Regions from separate parts of the Homo sapiens genome. Here regions 2 and 3 are each linked to region 1. The links come from fine-mapping of genetic effects on gene expression. A gene starts in region 1. Each other region holds a variant in brackets. All regions are shown on one strand. Distances are from middle to middle.

What was found. PIP is the estimated chance that this variant, and not a neighbour inherited with it, causes the effect. A credible set is the group of variants that fine-mapping cannot tell apart.
Region 2: its variant is the best candidate, but not a certain one, in a credible set for the expression of BSCL2 in monocytes (Fairfax 2014, PIP 0.64).
Region 3: its variant is the best candidate, but not a certain one, in a credible set for the expression of BSCL2 in whole blood (TOPMed, PIP 0.51).

The regions. Positions count from the first base shown.
Region 1 is chr11:62,706,052-62,708,893 of GRCh38, forward strand. BSCL2 (BSCL2 lipid droplet biogenesis associated, seipin) reads right to left here and starts at 1,373. Exons shown (of 11, transcript NM_001122955.4): 1 at 1,058-1,373. The coding sequence starts at 1,144. GNG3 (G protein subunit gamma 3) reads left to right here and starts at 1,625. Exons shown (of 3, transcript NM_012202.5): 1 at 1,625-1,864; 2 at 2,244-2,343; 3 at 2,627-2,842. The coding sequence starts at 2,245. The coding sequence ends at 2,755. HNRNPUL2-BSCL2 (HNRNPUL2-BSCL2 readthrough (NMD candidate)) reads right to left here. Exons shown (of 24, transcript NR_037946.1): 14 at 1,058-1,273. RefSeq lists a silencer at 77-416 and enhancers at 84-757, 2,077-2,842.
Region 2 is chr11:62,774,401-62,777,242 of GRCh38, forward strand. TAF6L (TATA-box binding protein associated factor 6 like) reads left to right here. Exons shown (of 11, transcript NM_006473.4): 2 at 1,371-1,530; 3 at 1,984-2,070. The coding sequence starts at 1,384. It also overlaps a transcript of TMEM223 not described here. Among named protein-coding and RNA genes, the nearest start is that of TAF6L, 4.4 kb to the left of the region's middle. The variant C/T (reference allele first, on the strand shown) is at 1,526.
Region 3 is chr11:62,633,214-62,635,713 of GRCh38, forward strand. GANAB (glucosidase II alpha subunit) reads right to left here. Exons shown (of 24, transcript NM_198334.3): 5 at 1,608-1,787; 6 at 232-301; 7 at 1-58. Among named protein-coding and RNA genes, the nearest start is that of GANAB, 12 kb to the right of the region's middle. The variant A/G (reference allele first, on the strand shown) is at 1,031.

The DNA of each region.
Region 1 (2,842 bases):
ATTGCTTCCCGAGTTTCTCCTCTCCGCCTCGAGCAGAGCTCGCTCACCGACACGGCTACACCCCACGCCCGGCGGAGCGCCCTGCAGCCAACCGCCGCTTCCCGCCAGTCCCCTCCAGCTCGGGGGTGGGCAAAGCGCCCGGAGCCCCTACCTAATCGTGCAACCATGGAAACCAGCCCGCCGGCTGCCACAGGGCTGCCGACTCACCAGCCTCGCGCGCTGCCAGGGCAACCGTGAGACGGGACTTCCGGCTCCCGGGGAAGTCCCGCCCCTCTCCGCCGGCCGCTTTTGTAGCCGTGGGAGGCGGGGCTTCAGCCCAGGGCGGGGTCCAGCACGGCGGGGCGGGGCGGGACGGGGCGGAGCCTTCCCGAGCTGCGAGGTCGCTGTCTCCTTGCGCTCGCCACTGGCTCTCTCTGCGGCAGGTTTCCCTCCGGTTACCGTGACCAAAGGGGAAAGACGCCTGCCTCCCTGCAGGCCCCAAGATGTGCCCCAGGGGATGCGCTGACTGCAGCCTCCGCTCGGCTCTCCCTTGAGACTGCAATCACAGCCCTCCGTGCACACCTTCACCACAGGCCATTTCACCCGCGAAGCGGCCGAGTGAGGCGGTCATCCAGCTGGCGCTGATTTTTATCGCCCACAGCTCCTAGGACCTGTAGGCATCTAAGGCGGGGGCATTCGCCTAGAGCATGTTGCAGTTTGCGGCAACCTGGGCCTCTTGCGTTGTTGCGCAGGCAGATTAGTGCCCTGTTCCCAGCGTGGTAGCATTGTGGACCTCCTCTGACCCTAACTGGATACACTCTCCCTCAGAGTCCCCACAGCACATTATCTAGACTAGCTTTTGGCAGTCTTCTATTTTGTAGACGTCTAATCACCCCAGATAAAGTCCTTCAGAGGCAAGGCCAGTGTTGTGTACATCTTTGCACACTGCTGCGGGCGTGGGAAGTAATCTATTCAAAATGAATGAAATTCTTAAAACCAATCCATCCCCCCGCCCCCTTCACGCCAGCCCACCTATTTCCAGTATATTTCTGCTGACTGTCCCCACAAGGGCCCCTACCTCCTCTTTGTCCGGTCCTTTGATCTGGTCTCCGCACACCTCTTTTTCCCCAGCTTCCTCCTTTTGGTCTACCTTTTCTGTAGACATCTTCCTGACGAGCCTCTGTTGACTCTGGATCTTCCACTGAGTCACTTGTGGCTAAAACGTGAAGTGGCGATCCAGACGCTGATACCTGTGGCGCATCACATTTTCCTGGATATGGAAAATGGAGGGTCCCTGGGAGAGAAACGAAGATTCAGGTGCTAAGTGCTGTGTCAGAGTAGAGGGAGGAAAGGAGGAGGGGGGCGACTGCCCAGCTGATGTCAGATTTTCAAATGAGCAGGGTCCCCCGCAGCCAGTACAGACTCCACTGCAGGGGCCGTCATAGGCCCAGACCACGCCATTTGAGAGGGGGAGTCGGCCTTGGCCTCAGCTCTGTTGGGGAGGTCTCTAGCCCAGAGTCAGGATGCCTGCAATGGGGGAGGGGCAGGCAGTGAACTAGCGACAGTGGGGGTGTGCGCAGGGATGCAGGCAGCTAGGCTCCCCCACTGGCCAGGCAGTTGGTATGCTCCAGGATCTGAGCAGCTCCTTCTAGCATCCTTCATCCTTCAGGTACCAGCCATCCAGACAGTGCTTGAGCTGCAGAAACTGAGACCAGACCTCTGGCCTGGCCCTCCCCAGGGGCCTCCTTTCGTATAGTCACTGCTTCTGCATCAGATACTTTCAGCTGCAACTCCCTACTGGGTGGGGCACCCATTTCAGGCAGAAGGTTTTGGTACCCTCCACTGACCCTACACCCAGGGCTGCTACTGCCGCTTGTGGCTTCAGGTAAGTAATGGCCTGTTTTTCTCCTGTTGGGGCTCACTGGAGCAGACAGGGGTGATGTGCCCTCCTCATCAGGGTTGGTTGAGGTCTTCAGAGCTGGGAACACACATGGTTTGAAGGGCTGAAAAGCCTTAAATCATTTGTGTAAGGTTTAATGATCTGTGGCCCAGGCCATGAGGGAGTTTGGGGAGCACCTCATCCCACCCTATTTTTTTCCATGAGGAATACAGGGATGAGACAGTCCACTGGAGGAGGAGGAGGAGGATAGGAGGGGAACAAAATATTGGGGTATGACCACAGCCTTGTAAAGGTTGGTGTGGAGTGAGCATGGAGGGGGGCCTCCAGCTGAGACTGTGCTCTGAGAGGTCCCTCTTTTTTCCAGGATGAAAGGTGAGACCCCGGTGAACAGCACTATGAGTATTGGGCAAGCACGCAAGATGGTGGAACAGCTTAAGATTGAAGCCAGCTTGTGTCGGATAAAGGTAGGTGGGACCCTGGCTGGCTCCCATTAGTTGGCCAGGCTGTGCTGTGCTGCAGGTTCCCAAAGCTCAAGATAAGAGATGCGTTCTTTCCTTCACTCCCTGAGGTCAGGGGAGGAGTCTGGGGCTCTGTAGAGAGAGCTGTCCCCAGGCCTCTGGGGGGGATGAGGGAGAAGACAAGTCGTAAGGAGCCCTGGAGATGGCAAAAGAGAACCCATTTGGGGAGGGAGGCTGCAGTCCCCTTCAGAGGTCCTGGCTAACAATACCCTTCCTGGCTGTGTCCCAGGTGTCCAAGGCAGCAGCAGACCTGATGACTTACTGTGATGCCCACGCCTGTGAGGATCCCCTCATCACCCCTGTGCCCACTTCGGAGAACCCCTTCCGGGAGAAGAAGTTCTTCTGTGCTCTCCTCTGAGCTCCCCTGTCCCTTCTCACAACTCCTCCCTTTTCCCTCTCCTGGGCCCTTCCTTAGGTCAGTAATTGTTGTGAGCCCCTTAGGCTC
Region 2 (2,842 bases), 68 kb after region 1:
AATGGGGAGCCATTGGGAGGAGTGCTGCACAGAAGCCACATAGCTGTCCATTGGATGTAGGGACCTGGACGTCACTGGTGACCCATTGATCCCCTGCCAGAGGAGTAGTGGGGGCAATGCCTGGGTGGGTCATCCTGGATCTGGGCCTTCCTGTCTGAGGTGTGGATGCATCACTTTGGCGCACGGGAGCCTACCTTCTGGTGCTGTGCGTTGTTGGAGTGAGTCATCAGCTGCTGTTTTTGTCGGTTTCTTATTGTGCTATACCCTGTGAACAAAACAGGTTCCAGCATTTAGGCACTGCAGCCAAACTGGGGAAGACCAAACACATAGGCAGAAAGCCCAGCTACTATCCAGCCTGGCCAACATGGCGAAATCTTGTTTCTACTAAAAATACAAAAATTAGCTGGGCGTGGTGGCACGTGCCTGTAATCCCAGCTACTTGGGAGGCTGAGGCAGGAGAGTTGGGGGCAACAAGAACAAAACTCCGTCTCAAAAAAAAAAAAAAAAAAATTTAGCCATCCGGGCGTGGTGGCAGGTACCTGTAATCCCAGCTACTCAGGAGGCTGAGGCAGATAATTACTTGAACCCGGGAGGCGGAGGTTGCAGTGAGCTGAGATCGCGCTGCTACACTCCAGCCTGGCGCCAGAGCGAGACTCTGTCTCAAAAAAAAAAAAAAAAAAGAAAAGACTGGGTAATGTATAAAGGAAAGAGGTTTAACTGACTCAATGCTGGGGAGGCCTCAGGAAACTTACAGTCATGGTGGAAGAGGAAGCAAACATGTCTTTCTTCATGTGGCTGCAGCTAGGAGAAGTGCCGAGCAAAAGGGGGAAAAGCTCTTTATAAAACCATTAGATCTTTTGAGAACTCACTATCAGGAGAACAGCATGGGGGAAAATGTCCCCTTGATTCAGTTATCTCCACCTGGTCCCGCTCTTGACACGTGGGGATTATTAAAATTCAAGGTGAGATTTGTGCGGGGACACAGCCAAATCATATCAGTCATCTCATTTTCACAGCAACCCTGTGAGCTAGAGAGGGCAGGAATTATTGTGCCTGTTTTACAGTTTAGGACACAAGGGCTCAGACTGATGAAGGCCTTGGCCAAATTCACATAGAAGGTGACAGGGCAGGAATGGGACCTAGTTCTGTGAACCCCAACACTTTGGACTTTGTCTAGCTTCACCGTTCTTGACCCACTGGCCAGTCTGTTTCCTTCTCTGAGCCTCACTTTCCTCATCTGGGTACTCAGAGCTCCTTGTTTAGAAACTCCAGAGCACGAGCAGCAAGGCTGGTGTGGAGGGTGTTGGATCACACTCCTGGGCTCTCCGGGAGGCTGGGCAGCTTTTCCAGTCTTCATTCTCCACTCCCAGCTCCACTGGGGCCATGTCAGAGCGAGAAGAGCGGCGGTTTGTGGAGATCCCTCGGGAGTCTGTCCGGCTCATGGCGGAGAGCACGGGCCTGGAGCTGAGCGATGAGGTGGCGGCGCTGCTCGCAGAGGACGTGTGCTATCGTCTGAGAGAGGCCA[C/T]GCAGGTACACTCCCCTCACCCCCTGATACCTCCAACTTTCCTTGTTTCTGCCTTTTTACTAACCTCCACCCTCGCTGATTTATTCAAGTGTACACTGGGTGCCTGCTCCATACAACAGAGACAGTCCATGCCTTTACAGAACTCTACTTGTAGCTGTCTGGGCTTCCAGCAGACAAAGCGCTTGCCAGGCATCTTCCCATGTGCTCCTCACAACAGCCCTGTTGGGCAGGCAGAGCGGGTAGATACTCACATTCTGCATGTGAGAAACTGAGGTGTTGACAGAAGATGTGACACCCGGGGGGTGTTTTTGTACAGGAGCAGAGACGGAATCTAGGCTTCTGATCCCTAAGCGTGGTCTCCTGTTTGCCTTCTCTCCAGTCTGGCCCACTTCATTTGGGGTTTCCCATGCCCCCTGCTTCACATCCTTTGACTCTGGCTTTTGTTCCCTCCCTCCCAGAATAGCTCTCAGTTCATGAAGCACACCAAACGCCGGAAGCTGACGGTTGAGGACTTCAACAGGGCCCTCAGATGGAGCAGCGTGGAGGTGAGTGGGGTGCAGGCTACAGAGGGCTCAGGTGGCATGAGGCCACTTCCATGTCCAGTTCAGGGCTGGCGATGTGGTGAGACATTAAGACCAAACGCTGCCGGGCATGGTGGCTCATGCCTGTAATCCCAGCACTTTGGGAGGCCGAGGTGGGCGGATCACTTGAGGCCAGGACTTCAAGACCAGCCTGGCCAACATGGCGAAACCCCTTCTTTACTAAAAATACAGAAATTAGCTGGGCCTGGTGGTACATGTCTGTAATCCCATCTAGTCAGGAAACTGAGGCATGAGAATCGCTTGAACCTAGCAGGCAGAGGTTGTGGTGAGCTGAGATTGCACTCCAGCCTGGGCAACAGAGCAAGACCCTGTCTCAAAAAAAGAAAAAAAAAAAAAAAAGGCCGGGCACAGGAGCTTACACCTAAAATCCCAGCACTTTGGGAGGTGGAGGCCGGCGGATCACGAAGTCAGGAGTTTGAGACCAACCTGCCCAACATGGTGAAACCTCGTTTCTACTAAAAATACAAAAATTAGCTGGCCGTGGCGGTGGGCGCCTGTAACCCCAGTTACTCAGGATGCTGAGGCAGGAGAATCGCGTGAACCTGGGAGGCAGAGGTTGCAGTGAGCTGAGATTGTGCCACTGTACTCCAGCCTGGGTGACAGAGCAGGACTCCATGTCAAAAAAAAAAACAACCAAAAAAACACAAAAATTAGCTGGGTGTGGTGGTGGGCACCTGTAATCCCAACTACCTGGGAGGCTGAGGCAGGAGAATCG
Region 3 (2,500 bases), 73 kb before region 1:
ATGTCTCCTCCCAGGCTCCTGGCTCATCTTTCTCTGCCTTCCCCTGAGTCTCCTCTGGCTGTTAAGAAGAAAAGAGGACCACTCTCCAATCATACCAGTTCTCTCTTTCCCCGCTCCCATCAACTAAATCCCATCCCTGATGGGGAGACTAAGTTCAAGTTTCTCATGGGCCTCTCCCCTCCACCCTCCCAGCCAGCCCTATCCTCCAACCACCCACCCGCTCCAACTTGCCTTGTCGCCATCCCTGGGTGTTTCCTCAGGCTGGGCCCCATCGCCCTCAGCTGGGTCTTTTGATCCTTGCCTGGAAGGTAGGAGAGCTGTCTGCTCCAATCCAGAGGGGGCAGGGACGAGGGGCTAGTGGAAGGAGGGGTTGGGGAATAGAGAGCCAAGGGTCCAAAGGAACGAAGGCATTGGAGGAAGGGACTAAATGTTAAAGCTTGGAGAGGGAACCCACAATGAGCAGATAAGTTTGCAAAGGATGGGGAGAGAAATGAGAAAGGAAAATGAGGAATAAGTGCCACCAGGAGGCACAGGCCTGAACACCAGCCTCTGTCAACATCCCAGAAGAGAAAGGCAGAATGATTCAGGGGCCTGGGTTATGAATGCCAATCCTGGCTCTGTTGCCTCTACTGAGAGATTCTGGCCCCAAGTGCTCTCCCTGGGCCTCAGCCTCCTGGCCTGACACAATGGCTTTGCAAAGGCATGTGGGTCATACTATACCAAGCCTCTACAGACATACATAGGGACTTCAAGAGATTCTGCCAAAAAATGCTTTCAAGGGCAAGTAGCTCTGCCCAGAACCTCAGGTGCCCCTCAGCTGAGAGTCAGGAACCCCAGCAATAGGCAGCATCTCTCCATCCCCTGGCAAAGCAATAAGCTCCCTACATTCCCGAAGGACCTGACTTTCAGTATCTCACCTTCCTTCTTCTGGGGGCTCCCAGCCAGGGTAACAGGTAACAGGACCAGACATCACACAGCAGGGGAAAGTGGGGTGAGTGAAAGGCTGGAAGGGTCTGGGGCACCTCCCCCC[A/G]AAGGCTAGAGTGAGGAATGGGTAAGGGCAGAGGAACAGATACAGTACCGGTGGCCATGGATTTACCTAGAGAAAAGGTTCTTGATCTTATCCCATATGCTACCAAGCGTGAGATTAACCTTATCCGAGAAACTGGGGCAGGAGGAGATGGGTAGGGAAGGGGAAAAAGAGGCACAAAACCAACACAAAAACAGAAACATAAAAGTGAGTTTCAGTCGACAAACTTCCAGAGATGGGGGGAAAAAGAAACCAAAAAAAATAAATAAATAAAAACGAAGAAAATAAATCTGGGAAATGTGATGATGTGAGAAGGGGAAGAAGGAGACACAGACCCAGGCAGGCCTCCCAGAGATGCCCAGGGTACAGCTCAGGGACAAAAGTGACTGCCTCCTGGTCTGTACAGGAAATGGAAAAAACCGCACCCGGGTCTGGTTCCTACCCTCCCTGACAGAGAGCTTCTCCCAGCCCCCAGGCCCTACCTGGCTGTCCCACCACCGTCTCCTCCCCGTGCCAGACCTCACAACACCCCTATGCTCTTTCACACTAGGTTCCCTGCAGTCCCAACCCCTGTACTCACGAGACCCTAGGGGCCCTCTGATGCTCAAACTCCAAGAGTCCTCGGGCATTGACACTAAGCAAAAGACTTCGGTCCTCTAGTAGGTCAAGGCGGAATGGCCGTGCTGTCAAGATGATCTTGTAGGGTCCCTCAGCCATGGTTAACTCCACACTGTTCTCATCACGACCAGAGACAGAAAGCCTGGGAAACATATCAAAAGAAATATAAGGAAGTACAAAGGGCCAAGAGGAGTAATGACACTTTAGAAGACCGGGGGAAATCTACCTGTTAAGAGAAATAGGCAGTGTGGTAACAGAGCAGGGATAGACAAGTTAATAAACAGAACCAAAGGGCCCAGAAACAGACCCAAGCATATTTATTACTTTTTTCTTTTTTTTTTTTGAGACGGAGTTTCACTCTTGTTGCCCAGGCTGGAGTGCAATGGCGCAATCTCGGCTCACCGCAACCTCCGTCTCCCAGGTTCAAGCAATTCTCCTGCCTCAGCCTCCAAATAGCTGGGATTACAGGCATGCACCACCACACCTGGCTAATTTTGTATTTTTAGTAGAGATGGGGTTTCTTCATGTTGAGGCTGGTCTCAAACTCCTGACCTCAGGTGATCCACCCACCTCGGCCTCGCAAAGTGCTGGGATTACAGGCGTGAGCCACTGTGCCTGGCCACTTATTACTTTTTTAAATGTACTAAATACTAAGAGGTGGCATAGCAGATGAGAGAGGAAAGGAGAACTATTCAAAAATGGAACTGAAAAAACATTTTCCATATAGGAAAAAAAATGATTTTCCAAATATGAAGAAAAATGATGTACTTCTTTTTTTTTTTTTTGAGATGGAGTCTCGCTCTGTTGCCCAGGCTGGAGCACAGTGGCACAACCTTGGCTCACTGCAACCTCCAC